2 linked regions of the Homo sapiens genome follow. The protein of the gene in region 1 interacts with the protein of each later gene in a pairwise test. Each region holds a gene or a part of one and is shown in the gene's direction. Other genes may lie near its edges.

Region 1 (2,916 bases):
CACAACAGGGGCTCCCCCCTTAGCCTCTGGGGCCTTCTGTGGGGGGTGGACTCTGCCACGGTGACAGTCCCACACACATTCTCACCACCCATGCCCGCCGCGAGGCTACAGTCCAGGCTGACCGTGCCCGTCACCTGGTTTCACACCCTGGTGGGCTGGGATGTCACCGAGCAGCCAGGCAGGCTTTGGCAGTGGATGCCTCTGGGCCCAGTAGCATGCTCCCGACGTAGCCCTGTGGGGCCCAGGGCTGGACAGATGAAACTCTGGGAGTTTTCAGAGGCTTCCAGGAGGCTGCCAGCTTAGGCTCTGAATGCCTGGGCTTGGGGGCCCAGGCCCCGCCCTCAGCAACACGCAAGTCCAACTTTCCCATCCCATCTGGTAGCAGAAGGTGGCCTCAGGTTGTCATGGGCTGTGGGTCTCTGAGGGAGGGGACCGTGGGCTGTGCATCATGACGATCTCTGGTACGCCTATGCCCACACTGGGTCCTGACAACAGGACGTAGCGCACCCCTGGACAGGGGTCTGGAGAGGGGGAAGGCCCCTTGCTCCCCTGTGGCTCAGAGCCTGGAGCCCCCCAGGACCCCCTGAGGCTGGCCCTGGCCCCGCGGGCCGGCTCCGGGTGGCAACCCCCAGGCAGCGCATGTCCCCCCAGGAGGCGTGGCTGCTGAACCGGGAACAGGAGCTGAGGGAAGAAATCCGGAAAGGCCGGGACAAGGAGATTGAGCTGGTCATTCACCGGCTGGAGGCCGACATGGCGCTGGCCAAGGAGGAGAGTGAGAAGGCTGCCGAGAGCCGGTAAGGACCCGCCATGGCTGGGTCACCAGCTGGGGAGGCCCACGAGCTGAGGCGCAAGGACCCGTGTGTGACTGGGCTGGAGTGACCCTGCCCTCCCCCCACCTCCAGCATCAAGCGCTTACGGGACAAGTACGAGGCCGAGCTCTCCGAGCTGGAGCAGTCGGAGCGGAAGCTTCAGGAGCGGTGCTCGGAGCTGAAGGGCCAGCTTGGGGAGGCCGAGGGCGAGAATCTGCGTCTGCAGGGCCTTGTGCGGCAGAAGGAGCGGGCGCTGGAGGATGCGCAGGCGGTGAGTGGGCGGGTGTCAGGTGGGCAGTGGGCACCCACAGGCCCCTCCTGCATGCACGCAGCCAGTCGCTGGCAGCCGGCTCACTGCCTTCTGTGCCCACCCAGGTGAACGAGCAGCTTTCTAGCGAGCGCAGCAACCTGGCCCAGGTGATCCGCCAGGAGTTCGAGGACCGGCTGGCAGCCTCTGAGGAGGAGACGCGGCAGGCCAAGGCCGAGCTGGCCACGCTGCAGGCCCGCCAGCAGCTGGAGCTGGAGGAGGTGCACCGGAGGTGGGCGGCGGGGGCTGCAGGGCTGGAGACGGAGGCGGGGCAGGGGAGCGGGCAGGACCTCTGCAGCTCCAAGCCCCAGGAGGCTGTGGCTGAGGAAGGCCAGGAGATGCAGAGACAGGGCCCTGTAGACAGAGGCTGGTGTGGGTTCCATGTTTGGGGCCCAGGAGACCTAGATCTGTTTTCCTCCCTGGTGCTTAGTCTAGGGTGTCGGCCATCCCTGTTGGGGCACCCGAGTGGGTCGGGTCTGGGCCTGGCGAGTTCTCCAGGGAGTCAGCTCCCGGGGCCCTGGGCTGGGTGGACAGGCGCTGAAAGAGCTGGGGCACTGTAAGGTTCCCAGCGAGCTCCCTCCACGGGGGTCCTGCATCCTTCCTGTGCCATCTGCTGCCACAGGCTGAGAGGTGGGTGTGGGCGAGGTGTCCCACCCCATCTGGGTACCAGGCCTCCCCAGGTGTGGCCAGGGTCATACTCCAGTGGCCTGTGTTGGGTCCTGACTCACAGCAGGTGGGTTGCCTGGACAGCTGTCTGGGCCAGCCACAGGAGTCGTGGTCAGCAGGGCTGGGACCAGGCTGACCAGGCGGCTGCCCCGTGCACCCTGTGCACTGCAGGCCACTCTGGGGACATGGGGCGGGGGCCACACTGAAGCCTACCATGTACTACCCACAGGGTGAAGACAGCCCTCGCGAGGAAGGAGGAGGCCGTGAGCAGCCTCCGGACACAACATGAGGTGAGTCCCTGTGGCCAGCCCTGCTGGACCTCGGGGCTGGGAGCAGGCCTGACCCTGTGGGTGTGCTGCAGGCTGCGGTGAAGCGGGCCGACCACCTGGAGGAGCTGCTGGAGCAGCACAGGAGGCCCACGCCAAGTACCAAGTGACCAGGGATGCCGGGAACACTGTCGAAGAACGGAAGGCAGAGGACAGAGGCTGGACGTGGGCCCAGAGGCCCACAGGGACGCCCACCTGCCCCCCACAGAGGCTGGTGGTTGAGATGCCCACGGCTAAGCACCTGTGGCTGCATTTTAACAGTAAAGGAGGCCGTTGTTTTCAGCGCCTTGAGTGACTGCCTTGTCTTCTCTCCTGGGCTAGAGGCTGCCCAAGACCCCCAGAGCAGCCAGGCGTGGGTTTGGCTCTCTTCCTCCCACTCCCCTCCGCAGCCTGAGCAGGCTGACCAGGAAATCACGAAGCTTGGCCATCAGCCCCCCAGCTAGCAGCCCTCAACACTCAGCCAGCAGCCCCCAGCACTCAGCCAGCAGCCCCCCTGCACTCAGCCCTCAGCTCCCCAGCATTCAACCCAACCCCCAAGTTCCTGTTCCCTGCCTTGCCCTGGACCCTGGAAGTCCCAAGCACAGGGAATTCCCTACCCCGTTCCTGGCCAGGCGCAGGAGGAACTCAGCAGAACTCACCCCCTGGGAGGAGCTCCGAGGGCCCCGCCGTGGCCCTGCAGGTGCTGGAAGCCCATGGCTGCCAGCGTGCTCCTATGGCTGGAGAGACTCCAGAGGGACAGGAAGCCCTACCCTCCCCGCTGTCAAGGTGTGACAGTCTGGAGCTCTCAAGAAATGGGGATGGACAGGGC
Region 2 (7,046 bases), on another chromosome or scaffold:
AAAAGCGACTGGAAATTGCACAGTCTCTTCTATAAACATTTGTATTGGGAACTTAAGGGAAAAGAAGGCTTAAAAAATTTTTAACTGTCTAATATACTATAAACTTTCTGTTATAGAAGAGAATAATAAAGTTGTTGAAGAATTAATAGAAGAAAACAACGACATGAAGAATAAATTGGAAGAATTGCAAACACTTTGTAAAACACCACCAAGGTATACTTTTACTATTTTAAAGTGCTATTTTAAAGAAATCTAAGTACAAGTATCTTTAAATTTTTTTAAGTATCAATTTTTTTTGTTATACAGCAAAAAGTATAAAAAAGAAGAAAATCCCCCAAAACCTTATTTCCTGAAGATACCCTCTAGTGACCTCTTGTTTTATATCATTTAAGCCTCTTTCTACACATACTCCACATGCACAATGTGTTTTTAAAATTGAGGCTATAGTATAAGGTATTTTATAACTTTTTATTAATATTACTAGATAAGCATTTCTCCATGTTATTAGATATTCTCCTACATATGTTTTTCAATACCTGCATAAATTTTCATGTGGATTTACTGTTATTTATTGAAGCAACCATAACATTTATGTTGTTTCCATTTTTCCCCTATTTTAAATAACTGTATAGTGGAGATTGTTCTAGATGAGATTTTTAGCACTTCTCAGTTAACTTTATTAGAGTATATGGATACATATATATTTTTCAAATGAAATTTTTCACTTACCATTTCTGTTTTTGTAATCTTTGGTTTGTTTTTTAGGTCATTGTCAGCAGGGGCCATTGAAAATGCTTGCCTGCCATGCAGTGGGGGAGCCTTGGAAGAACTTCGTGGGCAGTACATTAAAGCTGTAAAAAAAATTAAATGTAAGTTTAATTCTGAAGATTTTAAGGATGGCTTGGGCCTTTTTTATTATCACTGTTAAAGTAAACTCAGAGTTTACCAGCAGTAGTTCTTCTAGGGAATTTTCCAAATTACCTTTTTCTTCAATCTTAAAAGAGATTATTGATACCTTTTCAAAATTATGTAGTCATTGATCATTTTTCCCAAATAATATCTTTTGGAAGTGATGTGAGAATCGTCTTATGTTTATATTGTTGATTTTCTTGTTTCTTTTTGGACACTAGTATTAAACTGAAAAGTTAATAATCTTACAACTTAACTAATTTGTAGTAAAGAAAATGTCACATGGGTTTTAAATGAGCAATTAACTATTACTTCCTACCATAAACTTTTTTTTTTTGAGACGGAATCTCACTCTGTCAACCAGGCTGGAATGCAGTGGTGCAGTCTCGGCTCACTGCAACCTCCGCCTCCTGGATTCAAGCAATTCTCCAGCCTCAGCCTCCTGAGTAGCTGGGATTACAGACATGCATCACCACACCCAGCTAATTTTTGTATTTTTAGTAGAGACAGGGTTTCACCGTGTTGGCCAGGCTGATCTCGAACTCCTGACCTCAGGTGATCCACCCGCTTCGGCCTCGCAAAGTGCTGGGATTACGGGCGTGAGCCACTGTGCCCGGCCTCCTACCATAAACTTTTAAGGACTGTAGAAGTGGATCTAGTTAGCAATTGTTCTGTTGTTTCTGGTTATTATTTCTCATAGCTATAAATTTATCAAGTCCTTGTCAGTACCAGGTTGTGCCAGCATATCCTGTAGAGCATTCTCCTGATGTGTGTTTTCCCTGTTTTGAATACTTCTTGGTTTCTAATTCTAATATGCATAGAATGGATATATGTCCCAAAACAATAAGTAGTGTTTATATAGGAAAAATGTATATTAACTTCCTAAAATTACATTTCTTTTTAACAAAAAGAGCAGGAAAAGTCTGAAGTTTCAAATATAATTGGTAGATTCAGAATCACGTGTAGATGTTCTACAAAGCTCATTCGGTATTTATAAGGGAATTTGCTTCTCCGTTGTTACTGGTGCTAATAAAGGGCATATTGCTACAAGCAACGCAACTTTTTGTTAATAATGTATTAATTGGGAAGTGGAATTTTAAGCATGTTTTCATCCTAATGTGATAACTTGTATGTATGTGTGTATATTATGTTTTAGTTATTTTTTAGAAAGTTGGTTGGAGGTTTTGTTTTGACATGTACTGCATTTCATTTTCCATTTCAAATAATGAAAAACAGTCTCCCAGTTAGTATTTTTGCATAGAACCACTAATTTTCAGATGCTTACTGACATTAACAGGAAGATTCCTGTATGAATTGGTATCCTTAATATAACAGAGATGGTGAAATTCTAGATGTAGGATGTAGTCTTGGATTTATTAAAAAAAAAAATAAAAGTTAGCCTTAGCTAATAGTAGTCCTAATCAAAGATATATTGAGTTAAAAAAAAAAACTTGAAAGCTGTGGGCTATGTTTATATGTAAATTTCAGAGGCCAACTATAAGTCCCATCACCCTCCTTGTAGTCTCATTTTGTACATATCTCTTATGAATTGTAATATTATATTTAGTTAGATGCTCAAAAAGTGCTGCTGAAAGAATTTTCAATAAATAATGGAACGTAAATTTTCAGAGCACTAGAGAAGAATGAGTCTCTCCAGCTCATACTGCCTCCTTTTCTTCTGTCTTTGTGTTTGCTTTTTCCTTTCTTTCTGCTTAACCTTTTCTCTATATTTTATTTTTCTCTTTTCCTAACTGGACATAATGTACAATTGAAATACTAAGTTTCTGTACCTCATATTTACAGTATTTTCTTCGCTAAGTGTTTTAGAATATGACAAAATTTAGCTGGGGAATATGCCATGTTTCCTTACTATATGTAGCTGTCATCATTCCGAAAGAACTTATAGAGTACTTCTCATTTGAGTCTACCAAAATGATGATCTAAAATATTCCATTTTAATGACTGTGGAAAGTATAATGTTTAAACTATACTTAAAATCACTTCATCTACCAGAAAATTGATCTGAAGTCTGCCCCTCCTGTTTCTGAAAAAGTGCTAATAAACATACATTCTGTGGGCATTTTCTCACTTCCCTATAGGTGACATGCTTCGTTATATTCAGGAGAGTAAGGAACGAGCTGCAGAAATGGTAAAAGCAGAGGTACTGCGAGAACGTCAAGAAACCGCCCGAAAGATGCGCAAATATTATTTGATTTGCCTCCAACAGATTTTGCAGGATGATGGAAAAGAAGGGTGAGTTCAGTCTGAACAATGTGTCCTGAGATTACCAGGACAACATGTTATCATTTTTAAAGCATTTTCCTTAACCACTAAATTAACTATTTCTACATGATCAGCCATAGGGGGTTAAGAGAGGTTTATGGCTGTGCTACCCTAAATGTTGGCAGAGCCAATAGGAAAACAGAAACCATGGGGCTAAGGCAACTCATTTTTTCCTTTAAACTATATTTTTAATATTCTGGAATTCCCCACAGGGCTGAGAAAAAGATTATGAATGCTGCTAGCAAACTTGCTACAATGGCAAAATTACTGGAAACACCTATTTCTAGTAAGTCCCAAAGCAAAACTACACAGTCAGGTATGTCAAAGTGAGTCGCCAAATGGTTTTTCTATCTTTTCTTCTTTAGCTATTTAATATTTTCAGTATGAAGAAGGCAGGGAAGGTAAGGAGTGAGAGTTAATTTGTGAAGTTTTGTATGTTTTACTTAAACTAGAAGTTTACGCAAAAAGAGTACACAGTTTCCAATTTAAGTAGGCAGACTGAGCATGCCCATCAGTTTCCTATTGCTGCTTCCATCCCTCGAAATGATAGAAAAGATTTTAAACAGCAAATAAAGAATGAGAAAAAGAAGAAATTATAAGTGGGTTTTAAAAAGTTGCAGTGGGCCAGGCATCATGGCTCACACCTGTAATCCCAGCACTTTGGGAGGCTGAGGTGGGAGGATCCCTTGATCCCAGGAATTTGAGGTTGCAGTAAGCTATGATTGTGCCACTGTACTCCAGCCTGGGTGACAGAGTGAGGCCCTGTCTCAAAAAAAAAAAAAAAAAGTTTGCAGTGGATAGACCAGAAGCTACAAGAAATCCCTGAGAGAAAGAAGACAGTATAGGATGGAAGATGGAAACCTCAGTTCAAAACCACCGGGAGATGACTATTGCAATTAGGAGCAATATCAAAACTGTTCCACATATGAGGGTGATATGTTCCAGGAGAAATAGAGGGCCTAGGGGATATGAATGGGGTAATTAGTTGGTGTTCTAAACCAACAGCAACCAGGTGGGGTTAATCCTCTCTTTATTTCTTCTTCTCCCCTCCTTTCCCCAACCTCAATATTGAGCTGGGCAACAACAACAGGAACAAAGAATCTGGGAGCAGGGCAGTGCTCCAGGTGGCTAGCCATATCAAGCAGGAACTGGGAGCCGACTTGCCTTGGGAGGCTGAGATGGGAGGATCACTTGAGTCCGGGAGGTCAAGGCTGCAGTGAGCTGTGATCGCACCACTGCACTCCAGCCTGGGAAACAGAGCAGACCCTGTCTCAAAAAAAAAAAAAAAAAAAAAAAAAAAAGTAAGAGTAACCAACAAAAACATAGAACGTATAACTTTAAAACTGGTAAAGGAAAAACTTGGAAAAAAACATTTTCAATCTAACAAAATCAGGAAAGAGGAAAAAAACCTAGAGAGCGTGGGTAAGTAGGACATAATAGTAGTTTGAAACATCAACAATCACACTAAATATAAGTAGGTTAAACTCATATAAGTTATTAAAAGACCACAACTTTCAAATAGGGTTTTTAAAAATGTGGAAATTTGCTATTTTTACAAGAAGAACATCTAAAATTAAAAATCAGGGGATGGAGAATGATATACCAAGCAAATGCAGTGTTGATATTAGATAAATTATAGAGGTAAATAAAAGATTAGATAAATTAGAGTTAGCATTAAAAGGGACAAAGCTGATAGTTCATAATGATAATGGAATAGTCTCCCAAGAAACTGTAATTGTTTTCTTTCTGTAGATCATACAGCTTTATATAAAGCAAGAGCTGATAGAAATACATGAAAAAGACTGGTAAATTCCCAATCACACTGAGAGATTTTTAACATATCAGTGGGGAAATGGGGTTCTTGAACCTCTGGAAAACTTGAAGCTGAGATTGTTCAGGGGTCCATGAGTCTGATGTTGGTAAACATTCCTCATGTACAAGCCAAAGATTATTTGTATAAATTTTGGAATGGTGATGTGAACCTTAGGTATGAAAAGGCAGTAACATATAACAAGAAAATAATTTTCTAGATCTGGGGCAACAGTGTGCAAATAATGTCCCCAGTAGAGAAGCAAATCCTTTTCATGGACTCTAGGGCTTGCTACTCTGAGATACAATGCCTCTAATTTCATGCTATGTGGCTGCTTTGTCTTTGATCAGATTTAGTGTCTTAGGTAATTAAATCAGAAAGTCTATTTAGCTATTCTAGAAGTGTATGTGTAGGTATTGGGTGGGTGGGGTTCTTTGAGCGAACTTGTCAGAAACTCCATTCTTAACATCAGAATCAGGGCAGGATTGAAAACATTGTGGCTGGATCTTGAAATTGCTATAACATCTATTGCAGAAAATGATAGGTCAGATGGATAGCAATAATAATTATATATCAGATCTTAGTAACAAAATTACCAAGCTTTATCTAGTGGATATATGTAAAAGAATATTTTTAAATGTCCAGCATTGATGTATTTTCTTTAAGAATTATTACAGTATATAAGCATTCTTTGGGAATACAGTATAAAAACATAAATTTTTTCTTATTTTTAATTTTTTTTATTTTTTTGTTCAAGGATGAATCTTCCCTTTAAATATTAATTTTCTCTTAATTTCGTGTTTCCTTGCACATAATAGCACTGCCCCTAACTTCAGAGATGCTGATTGCAGTTAAAAAATCAAAAAGAAATGATGTGAATCAGAAAATACCATGTTGTATTGAAAGCAAATCAAATAGTGTAAACACCATCACCAGAACTCTGTGCGAACAAGCTCCCAAGAGGAGGGCAGCTTGTAACTTACAAAGGCTGTTAGAGAACTCAGAGCATCAGAGCATAAAGCATGTGGGATCCAAAGAGACACATTTGGAATTCCAGTTTGGGGATGGTAGTTGCAAGCACCTAAACAGTTTGCCAAGGAATGTTTCTCCTGAGTTTGTTCCTTGTGAAGGTGAAGGAGGCTTTGGTTTGCACAAGAAGAAAGACCTACTCAGTGATAATGGTTCTGAATCACTTCCGCATTCAGCTGCATACCCCTTTCTTGGAACCTTAGGAAATAAACCCTCACCTAGATGTACCCCTGGTCCTTCTGAATCAGGATGCATGCATATAACCTTTCGCGATTCTAATGAAAGACTTGGTTTAAAAGTATATAAATGCAATCCACTAATGGAAAGTGAAAATGCTGCATCTGAGAAAAGTCAAGGTTTGGATGTTCAGGAACCTCCAGTAAAAGATGGAGGGGACCTTAGTGACTGCTTGGGCTGGCCTTCCAGCAGTGCAACCTTATCCTTTGACAGTCGTGAAGCATCATTTGTACATGGTAGGCCACAAGGAACTTTGGAAATACCAAGTGAATCTGTTAAATCCAAACAGTTTTCACCATCCGGTTATCTTTCAGATACAGAGGAAAGTAATATGATTTGTCAAACAATGAAATGTCAGCGTTATCAAACTCCATACCTGTCAGAAGAAACCACGTATTTGGAGCCAGGAAAGATCAGTGTGAATTGTGGACACCCATCTCGTCATAAGGCTGATAGATTAAAGTCAGATTTCAAAAAACTGAGCAGTACATTACCATCTTCAGTGTGTCAGCAGCCTTCAAGAAAATTAATTGTTCCGCTATCTAGCCAACAAGATAGTGGCTTTGATAGCCCATTTGTTAATCTAGACTAATTATGGTACAGTATTTAAGAAGAATCATTAATATATTAACAAAAATGGAAGGGAAGACCTCATACTGAAAAAAATTGTGAGCCCTGCCTCTTTTGAGATGTTTTAATAACATCTGTTATATAAGTAAAGCATTCTTCTAAAATTGCTTGAGATATTTATGTTGCCTTAATATTCCAAAGGCCTGAT

Evidence for each region. Proteins that work in one complex are often made in the same cells at the same time.
Region 2: the proteins of CEP131 (region 1) and CEP152 interact in binary tests that used the Homo sapiens proteins (3 or more experiments, as listed by UniProt).

What each region holds. Positions count from the first base shown.
Region 1 is NC_000017.11:81,189,071-81,191,986, reverse strand, and holds the end of CEP131 (centrosomal protein of 131 kDa), read left to right. Parts: intron 1-636; coding exon of another isoform or gene 637-651; coding exon 652-794; intron 795-902; coding exon 903-1,080; intron 1,081-1,184; coding exon 1,185-1,348; intron 1,349-2,011; coding exon 2,012-2,072; coding exon of another isoform or gene 2,073-2,143; coding exon 2,144-2,218; 3' UTR 2,219-2,391; downstream 2,392-2,916. UniProt on the Homo sapiens protein: Component of centriolar satellites contributing to the building of a complex and dynamic network required to regulate cilia/flagellum formation.
Region 2 is NC_000015.10:48,738,063-48,745,108, reverse strand, and holds part of CEP152 (centrosomal protein of 152 kDa), read left to right. Parts: intron 1-116; coding exon 117-213; intron 214-765; coding exon 766-869; intron 870-3,008; coding exon 3,009-3,162; intron 3,163-3,404; coding exon 3,405-3,508; intron 3,509-5,820; coding exon 5,821-6,860; 3' UTR 6,861-7,046. UniProt on the Homo sapiens protein: Necessary for centrosome duplication; the function also seems to involve CEP63, CDK5RAP2 and WDR62 through a stepwise assembled complex at the centrosome that recruits CDK2 required for centriole duplication.